Regions from separate parts of the Homo sapiens genome. Here all the other regions are linked to region 3. Evidence: fine-mapped expression QTL. A gene starts in region 3. Each other region holds a variant in brackets. All regions are shown on one strand. Distances are from middle to middle. Region 1 overlaps BRIP1 (BRCA1 interacting DNA helicase 1). Region 2 overlaps MED13 (mediator complex subunit 13). Region 3 holds the start of MED13 (mediator complex subunit 13).

What was found. PIP is the estimated chance that this variant, and not a neighbour inherited with it, causes the effect.
Region 1: its variant is fine-mapped to the expression of MED13 in whole blood (INTERVAL, PIP above 0.99).
Region 2: its variant is fine-mapped to the expression of MED13 in whole blood (INTERVAL, PIP 0.96).

Annotation. Positions count from the first base shown.
Region 1 is chr17:61,825,907-61,833,906 of GRCh38, reverse strand. The region is part of intron 6 of BRIP1 (BRCA1 interacting DNA helicase 1); the gene reads left to right. Among named protein-coding and RNA genes, the nearest start is that of BRIP1, 34 kb to the left of the region's middle. The variant G/T (reference allele first, on the strand shown) is at 3,091.
Region 2 is chr17:62,012,959-62,020,958 of GRCh38, reverse strand. The region is part of intron 8 of MED13 (mediator complex subunit 13); the gene reads left to right. Among named protein-coding and RNA genes, the nearest start is that of MED13, 48 kb to the left of the region's middle. The variant T/G (reference allele first, on the strand shown) is at 4,778.
Region 3 is chr17:62,060,609-62,068,608 of GRCh38, reverse strand. It overlaps MED13 (mediator complex subunit 13), which reads left to right and starts at 3,331. Exons shown (of 30, transcript NM_005121.3): 1 at 3,331-3,469; 2 at 5,308-5,542. The coding sequence starts at 3,404. RefSeq lists silencers at 2,541-2,620, 3,411-3,690 and enhancers at 2,671-2,930, 3,841-3,940.

The DNA.
Region 1 (8,000 bases), 230 kb after region 3:
TTTTCTTTCTTTTCATGTTCAGCCAGCAGGAAAATCTCTGGCCTTTTAGAGAAAAAGTTTGCCAGCCCGTTCTATACTATTGTAATCTTGGTTAAGTTAGGCCAGAGGTTAGTGGAGTTAGTGTGAATCTCTTGCCTTGTCTGCAAATTTGCCTAGGGGTAGGATGATAGAATGGATGACTAATTGCTTGAGTATGTCCTTCAGCTCCAATAATTATGGCTTTTTTTTTTTTTTTTGAGGTGGAGTCTTGCTTTGTCACCCAGGCTGGAGTGCAGTGGTGCAGTTTTGGCTCACTGCAACCTCCACCTCCTGGGTTCAAGCAATTCTCCTGCCTCAGCCGCTCGAGTAGCTGGGATTACAGGTGCCTGCCACCATGCCTGGCTAATTTCTTTTATTTTTAGTAGAGACAGGGTTTCGCCTTGTTGGCCAGGCATGTTTCGAACTCCCAACCTCAAATGATCCGCTTGCCTTGGCCTCCCAAAGTGCTGGGATTACAGGAGTGAACCACTGTGCCTGGCCCAGTAATTATAATTTTTTGAGAGCTTGGAGAAAACATAGTATTCTCTATGGTGGAAATGTTTAATTCTCAAAAGTTTCAAATCTTCTTTATCATATTGAGTGAACTTGGTGAATATTTCAGAGAAAGTTGACAAAATTCAGCCACTCCTCTAAGTTTTCTTGATGTGTAGATACATTAATGAAATAAATATGTATAGCAACCCATCCGACATGAGTGTAGCTATTCAGTGGTGATAGTATCTGCAATTGTCATGTAGAACGTTTTCATTCATGGATACTGGGTGTGGAAAGATAACTTTACCTTTGAAAACTACTTCGTTAATTGACCAACTGTCTGCCCAGTAAATTTATCTTTCGGTTATTTTAGCTTTTTAAAAGTTTGGCTGTCACAAAATTATAGAGAAATTGGAAGTACAATCCAAATATCTTTTTTTATTGAGCCATTTAAGAGTATGTTGTTGCCCTGATGTTCCCTCACCCTGAAATACTTTAGTGTCTATGTCTTATAAGCAAAGACATTCTTATACATAATCACAATATAACCATAAGAATCAGGAAGTTAAAATTGATTCATTGTTGCCATCTAATACTCAGAACCGGTTTAAATTTTAGCAGTTGTCTTAATAACGCTTTTATAAAAGCAAAAGAATCCAGTCAGAACCATGCATTGCATTTAGTTATCACTTTAGTAACTTCTTCAGTCTGGAACACTTCTTCAGTCTTTCCTTGACTGTCATGATTTTGACACTTCAGAATATTACAGCTTATCTAGAATGTCTCTTAATTTGGGTTTTCTCATTAGACTGAGGTTATTTATCTTTGGCAGGAATGTCACAGAAGTGATGCCTTCTGCTCATTGCATCTTATAAGGTGGCACGCAGTTTCATTTTTTCTCATTAATGATTGATAACTTGATTAATATGATATCTGCTAGGTAAAAAATATAACTTTACAGTTATCTTTTTGCCTTTATAAAAGAGGACTTTATGGGGAAGAACTCTGAAATTATATAAATAACATGTCCTTACAAAAATTCAGTTTACTCATTTTATTTATATCTTTATGGACTTGTGATTTTCCATTTTATTCGGTGAGTTATAATTATTATATGATTTGTTTTGGTACTCAAGTGGGAAACCAGTTAAGTTGCTTGTGTCTTTCTGACATATATCAATCATTCTTGGAACGCTTCCTTATTTTTTGGCAAAAGATAGTGTTCCAGGCTCACCTTATATTTTCCCTGCCCTAGTCTCGGATTCAGACATTTCTCCAAGGAACCCTGGTTCCATTTAGTGAAAAATAACATTTGAACGCTGTGTTCTGGGAGTTAGTTTTGCTCATTGCTGTTGGAGTTGCTGCTCCAGGCCCTTTCAGCAGACAGCTAGAGAATATACACAATGTATTGTGTACACAAACCCAGACTCATAGACATATACATTTATGTCTATATTTTTTCTGTATCTGTCTGTCTGTACACTGAAAATTATGAGTGTTTATACCAATACATCCAGTTCCATTCCAGTACCAGAGGGCCCATTCTAATTTTCTTCCTTTCTGTATGTTTAACTGAAAAACCTTGTTCCTGATTCCTCTGAAAGTTAAAAACAGAATTACCATATGGTCCAGAAATAACATTTCTAGGCAAATATCCAAAAGAATTGAAAGCAGGTACTCAGATACTTGTACACCAGTGTTCATAGGAGTGTTATTCACAATAGCCAAAAGGTGGAAACAACCAAAATGTCCATTGATAAATAAACGAATAAACAAAATGTGGTGTATACATACAATGGAATATTATTGAGCCTTTAAAAGGAAGGAAATTCTGACATGTACTACAACATAGATGAAACTTGAAGACATTATGTGAAGTAAAATAAGCCAGTCATAAAAGGACAGATATTGTATGATTCCACTTATAATTTCCTTCCAGTTATTCATTACTATTATAGAAGTAGAATTCATTTTTGTATATTTACCCTGTAACCTGCAACTTGTTATATCACTTATTGGTTCTAGTTGATATTTTTGGAGTTTCTTTAGGACTTTCTAAGTACCCAAAGTTGCATGTTTCATTCTCTAGTAAATACTGTTTTACTTCTTCCTTTACAGTGTTTACCTTTCATGCAGTACAAGGCTGAATTAGAGTGATGAGAGTGGATACCCTTGCCTTGTTCACAACCTTGTGGTGGAAAACATTCTGGTCCCTCACTGTTCTGTATGACATTTGTGCTAGGTGTTCTGTCTATGCCCTTTGTCAGGCTAAAGAAGTTTCCTTCTATCGCTAGTTGGCTGAACATTTTTATAATGAGTGGATGTTGGATTTTATATTTAAAGTTTTACTGCATTCCTTGGTAGGATTATATGTTTTTTCTCCTATATCCTGTTGATATGGTAAATTACATTGATTAGTTTTTGAATGTTGGCCTGACTGTAAATTAGTGGAATAAAACCCACTTGATCATGGTATAGGACCCATTTTATATAATTGTTAGATTTGACTTGCTAAATTTTGTTAAGGATTCTTTCCATCTATGTTCATAAGAATATTGGTCTATAGTTTTCTGTAAT[G/T]TCTTTATCTGGCTTTGATATCAAGGTAATGTTGGCTTTATAAAATGAGTTGGGAAGTATTGATATTACTTCTTCCTTAAATTTTTGATAGAATTCACCAGGGAAGCCATCTTGCCCTTATGTGTTATTTTTGGGAAGACTTTTACTTTTAAATTTAATTTTAAAAATGAGTATAGGAGTATTCACATTTTCTGTTTCTGAGTCAGTTTTAGTAATTAGTATCTTTCAATAAATTTGTCCATTCAAGTTTTTGAATTTATTGGCATAATGTTCAAAATATTCTCTTATTTCTTTAAGTGTCTGTAGGATTTGTAGTGATATGCCCTCTTTCATTTCTGATATTCATAATTTGTGAATTTGTGTCTATCTCCTTTTTTTTGCTTAATCTAGAATTCATTTTGCTCAATCTGTAATAGGTAGTAGAGGTTTATCCATTTTATTGATCTTTTAAAAAGTTTTTGTTGACTTTCTGTTTTTCCATTTTCTATTTTGTTGGTTTCTGCTTTTTTTTTTTTTAATTACCATTGTTTTACTTTCTTTGGATGTAATTTTCTCTTCTGCTAGCTTCATAAGATTGAAACTTGGCCAGGCATGGTGGCTTACCCCTGTAATCCCAGCACTTTGGGAGGCTGAGGCGAGCGTATCACCTGAGGCCAGGAGTTTGAGACCAGGCTGGCCAACGTGGCAAAACCCTGTCTCTATTATAAATACAAACAATTAGCCAGGCATGGTGGTGGGCGCCTGTAATCCCAGCTACTCGGGAGGCTGAGGCAGGAGAATTGCTTGAACCCAGGAGGCGGAGCCTGCAGTGAGCTGAGATCGTGCCATTGCACTCAAGCCTGGGCAACAAGAGCGAAACTCCGTCTCAAAAAAAAAGAAAAAAAAAAAGATTGAAACTTAAATAGTTGATAACTGATTTTGGACCTTTTTTTTTCCTAAATAAAACACCAATGAAAGCTATACATTTCCCTCTAAGCACTTCTTTATCTGTGTCCCACAAATTTTGATGTTGTTACATTTTTTTCTGATTTCCCTTGTGATTTCTTCTCTGACCCAAGATTTATTTAGAAGTCTAAATAAACACTAACTAGGTGTTTTTTCCTAGATATTTTTCTCTTACTGAGTTCTAATTTATTTTTGTGTGGTTAGAGAATAGATTCTATATGATTTCAGTTCTTTTAAATTTGACGATCTGTCTTGGCAAATGCTCTGTGAGTTTTTGGAAAGTATGGGTATTCATTTATAAAAATCAGTTAGGTCAAGTTTGTTGATTATCTTGCTAAGATCTTCTGTATCCTTGCTGGTTTTTTTTGGTCTACTTATAAATTAATTAGAGAATACTGTAAGGGTCCTATAATTGTGGATTTGCCTTTTCTTTCAATTCTACCAGTTTTTGCTTCATGGGTTTTCATGGTCTGTTATTAGCTGTATACACATTTAAGATTATTATGTCTTCTTGATGTATTAACCCATCTGTCATTATGAAATGTCTTTGTTCTGAGATCTATTTTGGCTAACATTGATATAGCCACTCCAGCTTTCTTAGGATTAATGTTTCCATAGTATATATTTTTCATCCTTTTATTTTTAACCTATTTGTGTCTTTAGATTTAAGATAAGTTTCTTATAAATAATTGTCTTCTTTATTTATCCAATCTGACAACCTCTTCTTTTTAATTGGAACACTTATACTATTTACATTCAGTGTAATTATCACTGTGGTTACTATTTGTTTTCTGTTTGTTCCAACTTTTCTTTATTCCCCTTTTCTGTCTTCTTTGAATTAATTAAACATGTTTTAGGATTCTACTTTACCTTCACCACTGTCTTCTTAAGTATACCTCTTAGTTTTATTTTTGTGAGTTGCTTCATACTTTGCATCTTAAACTTATCACAGTGTACCTTCAAATAATATTTCAACTCACAAATAATGTGTAAGAACCTTCTGCCAATATACTTCCGTGTCTACTCTCCCATGTTTTGTGCCATTTTTGTCAAATATTTTACTTCTACATTTGTCATAGCCCTCACAGTGTTTTGTTATTTTTAGTTTAAATCATCAGCTATGTACAAATTTACAAATGAGGAAAATAATTTCTTTCTTAACCCTCCAGTTTTTCACTTCTGGTGCCCTTCATTTTGTAGGTCCAAGTTTCTGTATTGTGTAACTTTTCTATTAGCTTAAAGAGCTTTATTTAACATTTGCATTGCAAATATTTTTTCAGCTTTTTTTCTTACCTTCATGTTTTTAATGGTAAAATATATATAACATAAAATTTACCATTTATCTGTTTTTAAGTGTAAATTCAGTGGTATTATGCATATTTATATACTATTATCTAGTGCCAGAACCTTTTCATCTTTCCAAACTGAAACACCATACCCATGAAACAATATCTCTGTATTTCCCTATTGTCCAGCCCCAGGAAAAATGCCGTTCTCCTTTCCGTCTCTATGAATTTGACTACTCTAGATACCTCATGTAAGTGGAATCATGCAATATTTGTCCTTTTGTGTCTGGCTTATTTTACTCAGCATAATGTTTTCAAGGTCATCCACCATGTAGTATGTGTCAGAATTTTATTTCTTTTTATGGCTGAATAATATTCCATTGTATGGATATACCACATTTTGTTTGTCCGTTCATCTGCCAGTGGACATCTGGGTTGTTTCCATCTTTTTGCTATTTTGAATAATGCTGCTGTGAACATTGGTGTACGTATCTGTTTGAGTCTCTGTTTTCATTCGTTTGGGTATACACCTAAGAGTGGAATTTCTGGACCATATGGTAATTCTATATTTAAGTTTTTGAGGAACTGCCAAGCTGTTTTTCACAGTGGCTGTACCATTTTACAGTTCCATCAGCAATGCACAGGGGTTCCAGTTTCTCCACATCTTTGCCAACCTCATTATCTGTTTTGTTGTCCTTTTTAAAGAATAGCCATTTTTAAGGGTGTGAAGTGGTATCTTGTGTTTTTGATTTGCATTTCCCTAATGATTAGTGATGTTGAGCATCTTTTCTTCTGCTTATTAGCCATTTGTGTATTTTCTTTGGAGAAATGTCTATTCAAGTCCTTTGCCCTTTTTTGAGACAGGGCTTCACTCTGTCGCCCAGGCCGGAGTGCAGTGGCACTATCTCAGCTGACTGCAGTGTCCGCCTCCCAGGATCAAGCAGTCCTCCCACCTCAGCCTCCCGAATAGCTGGGATTACAGGTGTGTGCCCCCACGCCTGGCTAATTTTTTGTATTTTTAATAGAGATGGGGTTTCACCATGTTGGCCAGGCTAGCCTTGAACTTCTGGTCTCAAGTGATCCTCCTGCCTTACCTCTCAAAGTACTGAGATTACAGGTGTAAGCCACCACTCCCAGCCCCATTTTTTTTAAATTTAATTTTTATTTTAAGTTCAGGGGTACATGCTCAGGTTTGTTATATAGGTAAACTTGTGTGGTAGTGGTTTGTTGTACAGATTATTTTGTCACCCAGGTATTAAGCCTAGTACCCATTAGTTATTTTTCTGATCCTCTCCCTGCTCCCACCCTCTACCCTCTGATAGGCCCCATTGTGTGTTTTTCCCCTTTATGTTTCCATATGTTCTCATGATTTAGCTCCTACTTATAAGTGAGAACATGCAGTATTTGGTTTTCTGTTCCTGCATTAGTTTGCTAAGGATAATGGTCTCCAGCTCTATCTAAGTTTCTGTAAAGGACACAGTCTCATTTTTTTTATGGCTACATAGTATTCCACAGTGTATATGTACCACATTTTTAAAATCTAGTCTACCATTGATTAGCATTTAGGTTGATTCCATGTCTTTGCTATTGTGCATAGTGCTTCAATGAACATACGTGTGCATGTGTCTTTATAATAGAACAATTTATATTTCTTTGGGTATATACCCAGTAATGGGATTGCTGGGTCAAATGGTGTTTCTGTTTTTAGGTCTTTGAGGAATTGCCACACTGTCTACTGTCTTCCACAATGGTTGAACTAATTTACATTCTTACCAGTAGTGTGCAAGTGTTCCTTTTTCCTTTTTCTCTGCAACCTCACCGGCATCTGTTTTTTTTTTTTTTTTTTTTTTTTTTACTTTTTAATAATAGCCATTCTGACTGGTGTGAGATGGTATCTCATTGTGGTGGTTTTGATTTGCATTTCTCTAATGATCAGTAATGTTAGCTTTTTTCCATAGGATTGTTGGCTGCATATATATCTTCTTTTGAAAAGTGTCCATTCATGTCCTTTGCCCACTTTTTAATGAGGTTGTTTTTCCTTTGTAAATTTAAGTTCCTTATGGAAGCTGGATATTAGACCTTTGTCAGATGCATAGTTTGCAAAAAATTTTCTCCCATTCTGTAGGTTGTCTGTTTACTTTGTTGATAGTTTCGTTTGCTGTGCATTAACTCTTTAATTTTATTGGGTGTCATTTGTCAATTTTTGCTTTTGTTGCAATTGCTTCTGTTGTCTTCATCATGAAATCTTTGCCTGTTCCTATGTCCAGAATGGTATTGCCTAGGTTGTCTTCCAGGGTTTTTATAGTTTTTGTTTTACATTTAAGTCTTTAATCTATCTTAATTTTTGAATACGGTGTAAGGAAGGGGTCCAGTTTCAATCTTCTACATATGCCTAGCGAGTTATCCCAGCACCATTTACTGAATAGGGAATCCTTTCCCCATTGCTTGTTTTTGGTAGGTTTGTTCAAGATCAGATAGTTGTAGGTGTGACCTTATTTCTGGGCTCTCTATTCTGTTTCATTGGTCTATGTATCTGTTTTTGTACCAGTACCATGATGTTTTGATTACTGTAGCCACGTAGTATAGTTTGAAGTTGGGTAGTGCGATGCCTCCAGCTTTGTTCTTTTTGCTTAGGGTTGCCTTGGCTTTTTGGGCTCTTTTTTGGTTCCATATGAGTTT
Region 2 (8,000 bases), 48 kb after region 3:
TAAATGGATTAAGGGCAGTGCAAGATGTGCTTTGTTAAACAGATGCTTGAAGGCAGCATGCTCATTAAGAGTCATCACCACTCCCTAATCTCAAGTACCCAGGGACACAAACACTGAGGAAGGCCGCAGGGTCCTCTGCCTAGGAAAACCAGAGACCTTTGTTCACTTGTTTATCTGCTGACCTTCCCTCCACTATTGTCCTATGACCCTGCCAAATACCCCTCTGCGAGAAACACCCAAGAATGATCAATTAAAAAAAAAAAAAAAAAAAAAGAAAGCAGGCCAGGTGCAGTGACTCACGCCTGAAATCCCAGCACTTTGGAAGGCCAAGGCGGGAGGATCACGAGGTCAAAAGATCGAGACCATCCTGGCCACCATGGTGAAACCCCATCTCTACTAAAAGTACAAAAAAAAATTAGCCGGGCGTGGTGATGCACACCTGTAGTCCCAGCTACTTGGGAGGCTGAGGCAGGAGACTCGCTTGAACCTGGGAGGCAGAGGTTGCAGTGAGCCGAGATCGTGCCACTGCACTCCAGCCTGGCAAAAGAGCGAGACTGTCTAAAAAAAGAAAAATAAAAAGCAAACTACAGTATAAAGTGGGTTACAGAAAGTCTCAATGATGTATTCATATGTAAAAAATTAAAGGAGCTGCACACTTAAATGTGCACTATTTATTGTAAGTTATACCTCAATAAAAGGTTTTCTTTAATCTTCATAAAAAAAAAAAGAAAGGCTGCTAAGTAAAAAGCAATACATTAAATTTCTCATGTTAACATTAAAGTACTGCATACCTAACATCAATAGGAAAAAATAATCTAAAAGGATTACTCTGTTGGTTTGTGCTTTGAGGACAATTTCTTTTTTTTACAAAGATTGCTCAATGTGGTTGTGTTCTAGCATGAAGTTCAGTTGTTTGGCCTTGCGCAGTGGTTCACACCTGTAATCCCAGCACTTTGGGAGGCCGAGGCGGGCGGATCACAGGGTCAGGAGATCGAGACCATCCTGGCTAACGCAGTGAAACCGTGTTTCTACTAAAAATACAAAAAAATTAGCCAGGCTTGGTGGTGGGCGCCTATAGTCCCAGCTACTCGGGAGGCTAAGGCAGGAGAATGGCGTGAACCTGGCAGGCAGAGCTTGCAGTAAGCCGAGATTGTGCCACTGCACTCCAGCCTGGGTGACAAGAGCGAGGCTCCGTCTCAAAAAAAAAAAAAAGAAAAAAAGAAATTCAATTGTACTCTCTAAAGAAACTAGCTTTTAGAAAGAGGTCTGTATAGAAGAAAAGGGCTGATTTAATGTTGTCAAAAATTTAGAGAACTGCTGCTATTAGTATGTAGCCCCAGTTAATAGTTTCTTACTCTTAATAGCTGGGTAAGTGAATGTATGGCCATTTACTTTTCACATCCCTTGTACACTTGGGACATAACTAAATAGTTCACCTCAGATGAATGGAGATCCTATTTCTCCTACTGCCTTGCATAAAATAGACTAATTCTCAAACTTTTTTGTCTCAGAACTTATTTACAGTCTTAAAAAATTACCGAAGACTGCAAAGTACGTTTATTACATCTATTTATATTTTAGAGAAATTTTAAAGCACCACTTATTAAAAACAATAATTTCAGTGCATATTAACATGAATAAAATAGACATCCACTATATTTTCCAAAACAGTAGCCAAAAAGCTAATTGAGTGGCATTGTTTTACAGTTGTGCAAGTCTCTTTAATATTGAGTGTAGTAAGATAGTTGAATTCTTATATCTGCTTCTGCATTCGGCCTATTGCTGGATATTGTCTTGGTTGAAGTATATGAAGAAAATCCAGCCTCATGTAGCTATGCAATTGGAGAAGGGAAGAGAGTATTTTAATAACTTTTTCAGATAATTGTGGATATTCTTCTTTGATACTACACCAAAAATTGACAAGTGGTAGTTTCTTAAGGGTTGGTTGGAATGTGGAATCTAAAGCCCTGTCAGTGGTTGTACTTCACTAATAACTGAATGGATCTTTCGATTTTGTAACATCATGCATTGGTCATTTGAAAAATATCAGTTCACTGGGTTATATAGATCTGAATGTTGGCACATTTTGTTATATATACTCATCTCTAAATATCCGTGTAGGATCGATATTCTAGAACCCTCACAGATAACAAAATCTACGGATGCTCAAGTCCTTCATATAAAATGAGTTAGTATTCATATAACCCGTATGCATCCTTCAGTATACTTTTTTTTTTTTTTTTGAGATAGGGTCTTTGCCTCTGTTGCCCAGGCAGGAGTGCAGTGGTGTCATCTTGGCTTACTGCAACCTGCCCCTCCCTGGCTCGAGCGATTTTCGTGCCTCAGCCTCCCAAGTAGCTGGGACTACAGGCATGCGCCACCACGCCCAGCTAACTTTTTGTGTGTGTGTATTTGTAATAGAGATTGGGTTTCACCATGTTGGCCAGCCTGGTCTTGAACTCCTGGCCTCAAGTAATCCACCCACCTCAGCCTCCCAAAGTGTTGGGGTTACAGGCATGAGCCACTGTACCTGGCCCTTCAGTGTAAACAATCTGTAGTTTGTTTATAATACCTAATACAATGTGTTACGTAAATAGTTGTTATACCGTATTGTTTTTACAATTTATATTATTTTTTATTCTTGTACTGTTAACTTTTCATTTTTGAAAAATAATATTTTTCATCTCTGGTTGGTTGAATTTGAGGATGTGGAATTCAGCCAATGCAGAGTATCAAAATATTTCATTCATTAATATTGCCAGTGATCTCACCTGAAAAGTATTTAAGTATTAGAAAGCTCAAGCACTGTGTCAGATAGTTTTCCAAAATTCTAAATATTGCAGTGGTACCAACTGTATTAGCAGTAGTAGTCATTGTTTAGCAGTCAAGCTCAAAATGATTAGTTCTTCCTTAAATGACAAACTCATTTTGTTCATGTTTGATAACCTAATAAACAAATCTGCCAAATGACCAAATATGGATAATCTTAGTTTATCTACCAGTCCTTTGTTCTTCAAATGGTGTTTCATGAAAAAAGCTAGTTTCAGCTTGTAACTCAGTCGTACAAGCGCTTTTCCTCAAAATAGCCATTGTACTTCAAATCTATAGCAGAAATGCTTTATATGCACTACCTATTTCTTTATACAGAGTGTAAAAAGATTGTATAAGGATTGAGATTAATAAAAATTATTTTTGCTGTCTTCATGAAGGACATTCTTAAGTGATACTATCATAAAAAACAACAAACTGAATGTGTGGTGGTGGAGAAAGCAGTGACTACTACTGCTAGTACAGTTGGTACCACTCCCTTTGATTCATGTTCAGTTGCTAGAAGTTTTGCTGCCTATTGTTTTTGCACCATCTTTGTAAATTTCAACATAATAAAAAAGTCAGATACTGTTTTGATGCTATTATGAAAATAGTTTTGAACCCCTGTAGCCCCTGAAAAGGAGGGTTCATAGACCATACTTTGAATTTAGTAGACAAATATTTGAATAATTGATGAGTTAATGATACTGTTATTTTTTCCTTTTTATATTCTTTTTTTCAGTTTCTTCTCTTGATTTAGAAGTTTGGTGTTCTATTTTTGTTCTTTTGTTAATTGAATTAATCATTTATTATGCCTGCTTTCCTTAAAGTCTAAAGTTAGAGTCTACGCTCTTTTTATGGAATGAACAAAGACCTTGGAATACTTTAATCTTGCTCCTCAAATCTTTCATGCTTTTTTTTTTTTTTTTTTAGCATTTTAGTTCTACTCTGTTTTGTTATTAGAAACTTCAAACATGGACAAAAGTAAGCGAATTGGGCAATGAATTCCTGTTTATCAACCATTCGTATTCACTTACTGTGTTTGCTTCAACTAGACCTTTTCTCTTGCTGAAGATCTTTAAAATTTGTTTAATTTACTTTATTTATTTATTTATTTATTATTATTATTATATATTTTTTGAGGTGGAGTCTCATTCTGTCACCCAGGCTGGAGTGCAGTGACGTGATCTTGGCTCACTTGCAACCTCCACCTCCTGGGTTCAAGTGATTCTCCTGCCTCAGCCTCCTGAGTAGTTGGGATTACAGGCGCCTGCCACCACACCCGGCTAATTTTTTGTAGTTTTAGTAGAGACGGGGTTTCACTGTGTTGGCTAGGCTGGTCTAGAACCCCCGACCTCAGGTGTTCCGTCCGCCTTGGCCTCCCAAAGTGCTGGGATTACAGGCATGAGCCACCATGCCCAGCCCAATATATTTTATTGAACTTGATTTATCTAAAATATTATTTTGACATACAGTAATTGTGATGAAACATTAGTGATATTTGGCATTTCTTTATTTTATAACATGTCTTGGAAAATTGGTATTTTACATCTATAGCACATCTCAATTTGGACTAGCCACTTGTCAAGTGTCTAATAGCTACATGTAACTTGTGGCTACCATTATTGGATAGTGCAGCTTTATAAATTAGGTAGAAATAGGACTGAAGGGCTGGAAGATACAGAAAAGATGAATTTCTATTCAATATTAAGAATTTACCTTCTAGCAGTTGGAGCTATTTGATGAGGGGGATGCATCTCCTTATACAGTAGTATGGTCCTTGTCATTGAAAGTATTCAAAAAGAACCCATTCAAGCCAATGAGGTGGCTCTTGCCTGTAATCCCAGCTACCTGGGAGGCTGTAGTGAGCGCTAATCGCGGCACTGTGTTCCAGCCTGGGCAACAGCATGAGGAAAAAAAAAGAGAAGGGATTATTCATACGTTGGGTAGGACCTGCTGGGTTTTTTTT[T/G]TTGTTGTTGTTCTTGGTTTTTTGTGTTTTTGAACAAATTTCTGTGTTTAAAAAAAAAAATGCTCTTTTACAAAGTTCAGGCTGGGTGAGTGGCTCATGCCTGTAATCCCAGCACTTTGGGAGGCTGAAGTGGGTAGATCACTTGAGATCAGGAGTTTGAGACCAGCCTGGGCAACATGGCAAAAACCGGTCTCTACTAAAAAAAAAAAAAAAAAAAAAAAAAAAAATATATATATATATATATATATATATATATATATATATATGTGTATAGTGTGTATGTGTGTGTGTGTGTATATATATACACACACACATACACACTATACACATATATATAGTGTGTGTGTATATATATAGTGTGTATGTATATATATAGATATATATAGTGTGTGTGTATATATATATAGTGTGTGTATATCTATATTATATATATATATAAAATTAGACTGATGTGGTGGCAGGTGCCTGTAATCCCAGCTACTCGGGAGGCTGAGGTGGGAGAATCATTTGAACCTGAGAGGCAGAGGTTACAGTGAGCGGAGATCACGCCACTGCACTCCAGCCTGGGCAACAGAGCGAGACTGTCTCAAAAGTTAAATAAATAAAATTAAAAGTTCAAACAGTACACAAGAATATAAAATTAAAAATTAACAGGTTCCCCTCTTATGTATGTAGGTCTGCCTGTTGCTTTCTTTCACACAAATGGAATCATGCTGTATTTCTGCAACTTATTGTTTTTTTGATAAACAGCCTGGGTGTTTATCCATGTTAGCACTTACAGATTCATTCTTTTTAAAAAGTTCATAATACTGCATTTTATAGATATGTAATACTTTATTTGGCAAATCCTTATGCTATGCTCTTGATAAAGGTTTTTAAAGCAAATCTTAAATATTACACTTCTGCAGTACTTCAGTATGCGGCTCTAAAAAATACGAATATCTTCTTACATGAATATAATTCTACCGTCATACCTAATATTATGATACCTTGTCCAGATTTTCTCAGAAATGTCTTTTTGTAGATAGTTTATTTGACTAGGATTCAAACAAGGAGTAAACATTTGGTTGTTATGTTTTCTAAATCTCTCCTTTTAGTTGTCTCCTGCTCCCTTTTCATGACATTGACTCGGTTGGTAAAACTAGGTCAGTTCCTCCTATAGAGTGCCCCACATTCTGGATTTTTCGTTTTACTTGTCATGTAATTTTACTTCTTTCAGTGTAATTTAATTTCTTCCTTTTTCCTTTGCATTTCTATAAATGGAAGGTAGCTGTAGAGCTGAGCTATCCAATACTAGCTGTGTTAGTAACTACTATTGGCTATTTAAATTTACAGTAATTGGATTTAAATACAATTAAAAATTCAGTTCCTCAGCTGGGTACAGTGGTTCATGCCTGTAATCTCAGCACTTTGGGAGGCTCTCTTGAGTCCAGGAATTTGAGGTTACAGTGTGCTATGATTGTACTGCATTCCAGCCTTTTAAGAGACAGAGCAAGACTTGTCTCTTAAAAAATTAGTTCCTCAATTGGACTAGCCACAATTCAAGTACTCAAGAGCCATATACAGGCTGGGTGCAGTGGCTAATGCCTGTAATCCCAGCATTTTGGGAGGCCGAGGTGGGTAGATCTTTTGAGGTCAAGAGTTCAAGACCAGCCTGACCAACATGGTGAAACCCCACCTCTACTGAAAATACAAAAATCAGCCCAGTGTGGTGGCGGGCACCTGTAATCCCAGCTACTTGGGAGGCTGAGGTGGGAGAATCGCTTGAACGCAGGAGCCAGAGGTTGTGGTGAGCTGAGATCGTGCCACTGCACTCCAGCCTGGGTGACAGAGTGAAACTGTGTCTCAAAATATATATATATATATATATAAAAACATATACAGAACTTCCCATCATCATAGAAAGTTCTAGACAGTGCTCAGTGCTGATCTGGGGGCTTGATTACTTGATTAGACTCAACTTCAATATTTTTGGCAAGAGTACTTCATAGATGGTGGCTGTGTTGCTTTGTATTATGTTACGTCAGAGAGAGACAGTATCTGGTTGTCCCATATCTAGTAATGTTAAGATTGATTAGGTGGGGATCAGCCTGACCCTTTCATTGTATACTTTTTTTGTTTGTTTGTGTTTTTGGTGGGGGGTGGGACAGAGTCTCGCTATGTCGCCCAGGCTGGAGTGCAGTGGTGTGATCTCAGCTTGCTGCAACCTCCACCTCCTGGGTTGAAGCGATTCTTCTGCCTCAGCCTCCTGAGTAGCTGGGATTACAGGTGCCCACCACCACGCCCAGCTAATTTTTGTGTTTTTAGTGGAGACGGGGTTTCACCATGTTGGCCAGGCTGGTCTTGAACTCCTGACTTCATGATCCACCTACCTCGGCCTCCCAAAGTGCTGGGATTACAGGTGTGAGCCACTGCATCTGGCCTTATTGTATAGTTTGTAATAATGTTGACAATGAATAAAGACAATTTATCTTCTTCCTCCGAAATCTCTGACCTCTTTCTTGCCTTATTGCATTGGGTAAAACGTTCAGTAAAATGTTAAATGTTGAGAGCTAATATTCTTGCTTTGTTCTTAATCTTGAGAAATTATTCATGCTTAAACATCAAGTAAGATATTAGTTGTAGTTTTTCATAGATATCCATCAGATCAAGCAAATTTTCTTTTATTCCTTGCTTGCCGAGTGTATATAAATAGGGGTTGAATATATTAATAGTATTAATAGGGTTTTTTCTATAGTTATTGAGATAATATGGTTTTCTTTTATTCTGTTAATGTGATGCATGATATTTTTTTCTTTTGAATGCTACACCATACATTCCCAGAATTAACTTCATTTGGTCATGATGTGTTATTCTTTTATATTTTGCTGGTTTGAGTTGCTGATATTTTGTTAATTATTTACATCTGTGTTCTTAAGAGATAATGGTCTATGGTTTTCTTTTTGTGTAATATCTTTGATTTTAATATTAGGATAATGGTGGATTTCTCCTATGTCCTTTTGAAACGAGTTTGGTTTTTTTTGATAACTTTGGTTCTTTTTTTTCTCTATGCACAATAAGATATCTCAGGCTCTGTACAAAAAGGTGTCTCGGCCGGGCGCAGTGGCTCACGCCTGTAATCCCAGCACTTTGGGAGGCCAAGGTGGGCGGATCACGAGGTCAAGAGATCGAGACTATCCTGGCCAACATGGTGAAACCCCGTCTCTACTAAAAATACAAAAAT
Region 3 (8,000 bases):
CACTCTGTCGCCCAGGCTGGTGTGCAGTGGCGCGATCTCAGCTCACTGCAAGCTCCGCCTCCCGGGTTCACGCCATTCTCCTGCCTCAGCCTCCCGAGTAGCTGAGACTACAGGCGCCCGCCTTTTTGTGTTTTTAGTAGAGACAGGGTTTCACCGTGTTAGCCAGGATGGTCTTGATCTCCTGGCCTCATGATCTGCCCGCCTCGGCCTCCCAAAGTGCTGGGATTACAGGCGTGAGCCACTGCACCCGGCCTCCATTACTCTTTAAATCACACAAAATGTCATTTTTACCGAATGTAAGTGGTTACTGATACGTTCTTTGTGGGCTGAAAATATTTATTTCTTCTCTTTCCCTTCTCCCAATGATTCCATTCCCCTCACAACTGGGATCCCCCCCATTCTAATCTGCTTCTCCATTCTCTCAGTCCTGTCTTTCTCTCTCTCTCCTGCTCCCTTCTGCGATCCTCCATCAGACTTTTTCTTCTGGGTCTTCCTCCCTTCTTCGCTTCTGTCTCCTTGTCTCCCTCTTCTTTTTGAAAAGATTGACATTCAAACAGAAAGGTCAATCAAATGTTACCTCCTACTGGTAGGTTTCAGGTATATTCTACCTGCCATTGGAATCCTGAGGATGGTGCTCAAGTCAGGGGGTGGGGGCAATGGGAGGGCAAGACTTCTAAGGAGAATGGAGACCCCTTTAGATGTGAGGAGGGCATTTCAGCCTGAGGAAAGCAGCGGAACAAAGATCTGAGGAGTTTTTCAGGGAACGGGAAATGGGCAGAGGAGCGCTTACCTCATTGGATCTGGGGATTGCTGTCTCCTGGTGCTGGCACTCGGTTATAAAGGATGCCAACCTTAGTTGATTTGAGCTCCTGGATTGAATTAGTCCTGGTTGCATAATTGACTTTGATATGTGGACTTTGGGTTCGAATTAGGTTTAATAAGATTTAACTGCTTCAAAGGGCTTTATAAGAATTCATTTTATCCTTCAAATCTGATTTCAAATGCTACCTACTTTATGACAACTTCTCTAAGTTTGATGCTCTTCTTCTAGTGCACTTACTATGCCATAGTAGGTACATACTTTATTCAAGCAATTACCCCCATTGTATTTTACCTTATTCTGTAGGAAATGTTTCCTTTAGTGCCTCTCTTCAGGAATCTTGAGGGACAGGCAGGTATCTTATTCCTATTTGTATCCTAGGCCTAGCACAGAGCAGGAACACACTCAATTGAGCCAGCAGGTTCTCAATGATTTTTAAAATTACATTAATAATTAACATTAAGTAAGCACTGTGGCAAGCACTGTATCTACATTGTTTCATTCACCAGTCATTTTAGAAGAAAAGTACTTTTATTACCCCCATTTTACAATAACCGAGAGAAAGCAAAATTAATTTGATCTAAGGTCAAATATGATCTAAGACTAACTAGTGAGGGGCAGAACTTTTTCTCCAGGCTTTGGGCTTCAGATCTGGGCTCTTCACCACCACAGATGAACAAGTGGATAAATGAGGACTTCTTTTCATTCCGTGGCTGAAGAAGTGACATGGAAGAGTCTACCATTCATTTTACAGATACAATTATGTATCTGTAATACATAATACATAATTATGTATCTGTAATACATAAAATTACAGTAAGTCCTAACTCACTGATGTTTCTAACTTCTGAATCATCTTTTTCTTCTTCTTTCTTTCTTGCAATCCTAAAACCGTCAGAGAAACTGTTTTGAACTCATATTGAAGTGTAACCCATCCAAGCACTGGGTGTTTTATGGGAAAGAGAATAAACCTTTTGTTTGGTTCTTACTTCTTACCACCCATTCATTTGTAACTATACAAATATCAAGCACCTACTGTGTGCTAGGAACCTTTTTTTAGGCACTAGAGAGACAGAAGTAAACAACAAAAAAATAGTGAGACCTTTACATACACTAGTTCTCCTGCTCGTCACAATAACTATATGAGGTAATGATGACAACAATAATAGTTAACTCTTAACAGTGCTTATCTGTGCGGGGCACTGGGCTACCTGCTTAATTTGTATTAACTCATTACAATAAGCTTGTGGGGTAAGGGATATGTTTTCCCCATTTTACAGATGAGTAAAGACACAGAGCAGGAAGTGATTTGCTCAAGCTTGGAACCCAGGCAGTGTGGCTCTAATTCCCAGTCTATTAACTACAGGGCAATATTTTGTTTCTTAAATTTATATCTTCATATCACAACTTTTAGGTTGAGGAGTCTTATCCCCATCCAGATCATCTGACTCCCAAATCCAGAGGTTTGCACCTGCACCCCAGCGGCCTCGCGAAATAAATGAGAATGTCTTGGAATTTTTGCCAATACTTTCTCTTCCAAAGAACTCAAACTGATTTCCACGTAATTCTCACTGATTTGTGAAATGAACCTTCCTGGACTGTAAATTTCCCCGCAAAGAGAGGGCCAGGGCCCCGGGTCGTTTTATACTGGCCGGGGCACCCAGCAGATGGCGCTATGTTAGTGGCCACCAGCTGGCTGCCCCGTCCCCCGAGCTCACCGCCTCCGCCGAAAGCTTCCCGGCCCTCCCTCGCTCACTTCTCTCTCCCCCTCCCAACCGAGCCCGGGCCCACGTGACCTCAAGGCGGCCAATGGGTGAGCAGAGAGGGCGAGCTGGTCCCTGTGGCCGCCATTAAAGCGAAGGGAAAACCCGTGAATTCGGATTAAAGGGGGAAAAACACCGCCCGCTGGGCCCACAAAATGGGGGAGACTACGGCGTCCAGCCGGTGAGGCCACAGGAGGGCAAACTTTAGGCCGGCTTGGCCCAGGAACGACACGAAGACAGAGCCAGAGAATGGTCTGAGCCCGCAGACGCCGCCACCACCTCCGCCGCTGAGGAGACTCTGGGCTTAAGGACATCGCCGCTGCCGCGCCGGGGGCCTGGGCTTCTCTCCCGGTTCTCGCCCTTCCCGCTCCTGTGCGGGCGCCTCTCCGCCCGGGAGAACCGTCCTGGGCTTGGGCTCTGCCGTCTCGGACTTGATTTTGATTATTTATTGTGTAATTTATTATTTTTCTTGTGGTAGGGGCACACATCCCCTCCGTCCCCCAGAGAGGGACGAGCGTCTGCGGGATCCGCAGTCCGGCCCGCCAGGCGAGCGCGGCGCGGCCCTCCCGCCTCCGGCCCTCGGCCCCGGGCGGCTGGGTGCCGGCCGGGCGGCGGGGGCTGCTCGCGGCGGCGGCGGCGGCGGCGGCGGCGGGGGGGTGGGTGGGGAGGGCGGGCGCCCGGCGGCCTCCTCTTCCACCGCCCCCCCAACCACTACCCCCCCCCCGGCCCTCCCCGGTGTCTGTGTTTCTCTCTCTGGTCGGAGGCGGCGGTAATGGCGGATGGTGGGTTGTGGCGCCGGCGGCGGCTGCTGTGAGGGACGATGAGTGCCTCCTTCGTGCCGAACGGGGCCAGCCTGGAAGATTGTCACTGTAACCTCTTCTGCCTGGTGAGTGCCGGGGCCGGCGGGCGCCGAGGGAGGGGGGCCGCGAGGTGCGCCCTTGGGCCGTGGGGGAGGGGGCCGGGTCTGGTCCAGATGCCCGAGTTCCCGGGCGAGGCCCAGCCGGAGCCGGCGCCCTGCGAAGCTCCGCGGCCAGCCCCGGGAGGCGGCGTTCGCTCTCCTACGGTCCCGGGCTCTGTTTAGGGGAGTGTTGGCATTTTTTCTCGTCTTGTTTCGGACTCTCCTTCTCACCGTAGTCTCGTCCTCAACTTGAGCTCCTTATCTGGCAGGACAGTAACCTTTCCCTCTTGTCTTGCTTAACTGTTGCTTTTCTCCTTATTGGCCCTGTATCCCTGCTTCACACTTTACATTATTGCCCCTGCTCCCCACCGCCTTTATGTCTTACCCTTTTAATTTGGTTTCCCCATGTAAACAGGACCCCAGAACTTAAGCCCTAGAAACCTGTCTTGGTTTTACATTTTTTTTGTATGAGTCAAACTAACGCCAGGTTAGTTTCTTTCTTGGGTGACTTAAGATCTCTCTGTAAAAGCCAGTAGGTGCCATTTCATATGTTTTCTTTTTAAACTTTGAAAACAGTTTGCCATTTTTGACAATTTCTAGCCATCTTGCTTTTATTAGAACATGATGTTTTTGTGAGAGTGAAGGGGGCTAGTGGACGAGGTGCTGTGGTTTTGCACTGTTTCTATATTTATTGTGTTTTGGTTGCTTTTTCAGAATGTTTTGAGCAGGCTGCTCCCTTGTTTGATTGAAATGGAAAGTCGAGAGAAGCGGGATGTAGGGATGATCATTGTGTAGGTTAGCCCAGGTCTGGTAACATCCAACAGTTAAGGCTTTCAGAAGTACCAACTGTTGCAAATAACTTGTCCTGTATGGGACAGTAGCTGAGCTTCATCAATGACTTTAAGTTTGGGTGACTTTACTTTTTCATTTTCTCCTTTGTGCTATGAGAAATATTAAGAGTATATGATAGGTAAGTGAGTTAAGTGGGAGGAGCACAACTAGTTGGCAAGTGTAAACTGCCAGTCATGTATCAGCAGTTTCATTTTTGGCACCTTATGCTTTGCTCCTTTAAGTTAGATTAAATTACTGAATTCCTCTTGTCGAATTTCTTAACGCCCATGCTAAATTGAGATCTTTAATACTCTATCCTCGTCTACAGTATGTTTTTCTTTTCAATGTCCATTAATCAGCATCTCTTCACATGTAATAAGACATACACCAGGTTTTATATTTCTATCTTATCCAACTCAGTCTATTTTTGGTACTTTTAGGATCAGTTCTTTGAAGATAGACTAGCACAAATCTGACAGTTCTTTGTGAGTAGCTATTTGACTTTTCCGACAGGGGTGTGTGTGAAGAATTAACATAGATTTTTTCAGAACTTGTTCAGATGTCTTTTCATTAGAGACGTTACTTCTGTAAATGTGGAATAAAAACCCATGATAGGGTCTTTAATAATTGATTTTCAGTTAAAAGTTTGACACCAGTGAACAAATGTGACCAGTTAGGACAGAGAAAAATGTACTCTGTTTGCATATTGAAGTGTGTGTCTATATTTAACATCATTCAGTTTCTTCTGTTTCTACTTGGAGTACATATTTGCTTGCTATTCAGTGACATGGTGGTGGTAATTTTTAACTGTATTCTTCTCCCTAAAATTCTTGGTTGTTGAATTATAAAGTCTTTTTTTGTTCTAATTTGCAGTCAATATCTCAAGCATACATTGAAAAATTGTAATGTCTTAATGAAATAAGAGACATCATATTGAGTACTTTTGACTTTGAGTGAATATGCAGTAATAAAACTTAATGCTTTCTTTCCTTCAGGCTGACTTGACAGGAATTAAGTGGAAAAAATATGTATGGCAAGGCCCAACTTCTGCCCCTATTCTGTTTCCTGTGACAGAAGAAGACCCCATTTTGAGCAGTTTTAGTCGCTGCCTTAAGGCAGATGTACTTGGTGTTTGGCGGCGAGATCAAAGACCTGGAAGAAGAGAATTGTGGATATTTTGGTGGGGTGAAGACCCCAGTTTTGCTGACCTTATTCACCATGACTTATCAGGTGAAAGAAACTTTCCATTTCTAACTAATGATATAGCAACATTGTATACTTCTCCCAGAATGTCATATGTATTACAAATTAAGTTTGTTTTTGTGGGAGACTTAGGAGGCCAGATAAAAATTCAGCTTCATTGTTTTATTTCACCATGATTATTTTATTTTACTTAAATTATCCATGTTGTTATAGCTGGGTTTTTAAGGCGTGAATGACTTTCTCCTTCCACCACCTCTCTTCTTAATTTCTCACAGGTAGTTAGGGCCCGAAGAAGGCATGTTACATTAATCTAAAAAAATGGAATCAGGAAACAGAGTTCCTAACAAAGTCGTGTAATAGTTTAGAAGCCAGATGTAACTTTTGAGTCACTTCAGCCACTGCTGAAGTTGAGTCTTTTGCATTGAATAGGCAGATGATTCTAAAAGTACTGGAAATGTAACTATCCGTGTGTGTGTGTGTGTGTGTGTGTGTGGTGTGTGTGTGTGTGTGTGTGTTTTAAGGCATGTATTTTGTTATTGTCATTTGTGCTATTTGATTAACTTATGAAGGCATATGTTAATTTAGTTATTTTTGGAAAGTGACTCATATACTGTTCTGTCAAACATAATAAGAGAAAAGTGCCAACTTGTTTAGCTTTTATGGGACATGGGATCATAATCTAAAAGGTTACACAAACAATTTTATTGTGAGCAAATCAATGTGATTACTTCCTTATTTTCTTGACTTTTAGGACCAAATGCTACTTTAGAAAGAGAAACTATAGCTTTTCATATAATTACTGAAGCTTTAAATTGTGAAAGTCAGTATTAACTGAATCTTAGATAATAGGAATATAAATGATTGGTTGTATGCTATAAGGTTCCAAAGACTTCAGTAAGATAGTTTGATAATGATTTTTGACAGATAAACTTAGGATTTCTAGATAATTTTTTTTAAGTTCTTATTTGAAATTGAGTACTCTGAAGTTTTTGTTATTGTATCTCTGACCTATAGGATCTATTTTATTTTTGGATAGAATGTATTCTAGGTGTCTGTATCTTGAACTGGTACTTAGTAAGACCAACATTTATGTAGGAATGTACGTGTTACATTTGTATGTTTTGATAATTGCTTTTCACATTCTAATGAACATACTCTCCAGTGTTAATTGTTATTTTTGAGAGTGACTGCAATTCTTCAAGAAAGCTTTCCAGCTTTTGTAGTTTTTCTAATAAGATGCCTGCTGCAGAGTCCAGTCCTTAGTTGTGTGTATTTAATGTAGTTCTAAATGTGTAAAGTGATGTGTATATGTATATACATATATGTACATATACATGATGTATGTATATATGGTAGTTTTAGCGAGACAATACTTTCTAATTATGCCAAAAGCTAAGTCCGCCAGCCTCCTTTTTCTTTCATTGTTTTGGATATAGTATTTGAGTTATTTTAATCGTTAAGTGGTCATAAAAATCACCTTACTAGAATGTTTGGAGACTGTATAACATTGTTGAAAAACTATAAACTATTGATAAAATATATTTGTTGATAAAACATAATTATTGATAAAACTATAATGGTGACTTAGGGGCTTTGGTCTTCTTAATAAAGTTGGCAGAGCATCTAAACAGACTAAACAGATCTTTTTTTAAGATTCCATGAAATACACTTTGTAGAATCAAAGATAATTTTAAGAGATACATAATGTTTAATTTTTTTTTTCTTTTTTTCTTTTTAAGTAGAGATGGGGTCTTGCTGTGTTGACCAGGCTGGTCTTGAACTCCTGAACTCTAGTGATCCTTCCATCTTAACCTCCCAAAGTGCTGGGATTACAAGTGTGAGCCCCTGCACCTGGCCTAGTTTTACCGTAATAGAAAAAATATTGTGAAAGTTAAAAGACTATTAAAGTTAGATGTGAGCTGCTTTGATGGATATTGTTAAAAGTCAGTTTTGTCTTCTAGGTTTCATGTTACCAGTCAGATATGTTTTCTCCACTGAAACTAGGTTACAGTCTTAAACATTTTTCTCTAGCTTTGATTTTTAGCGTAATTTTCAAAAATGGTAGTTACTTGTACCTTTAAAATAGTGATCAGCTGGGTGCCATGGCTCACTCACGCCTGTAATCCCAGCACTTTTGGGAGGCTGAGGCAGGCAGATCGCAGGGTCAGGAGATAGAGACCATCCTGGCCAACATGGTGAAACCCCATCTCTACTGAAGACACAAAAATTAGCTGGGCATGGTGGCACGCACCTGTAGTTCCAGCTACTCAGTAGGCTGAGGCAGGAGAATTGCTTGATCCCAGGAGGCGGAGGTTGCAGTGAGCCGAGATCTTGCCACTGCACTCCAGCCTGGGCGACAGAGTGAGACTCTGTCTCAAAAAAAAAAATAGATAGTGATCTTGAACGTGAATGAAAATAATTTTGGGAGGTTGGTTTTTTTTTTTTTTTTGAGACGGAGTCTCATTCTGTCCCGCGGGCTGGAGTG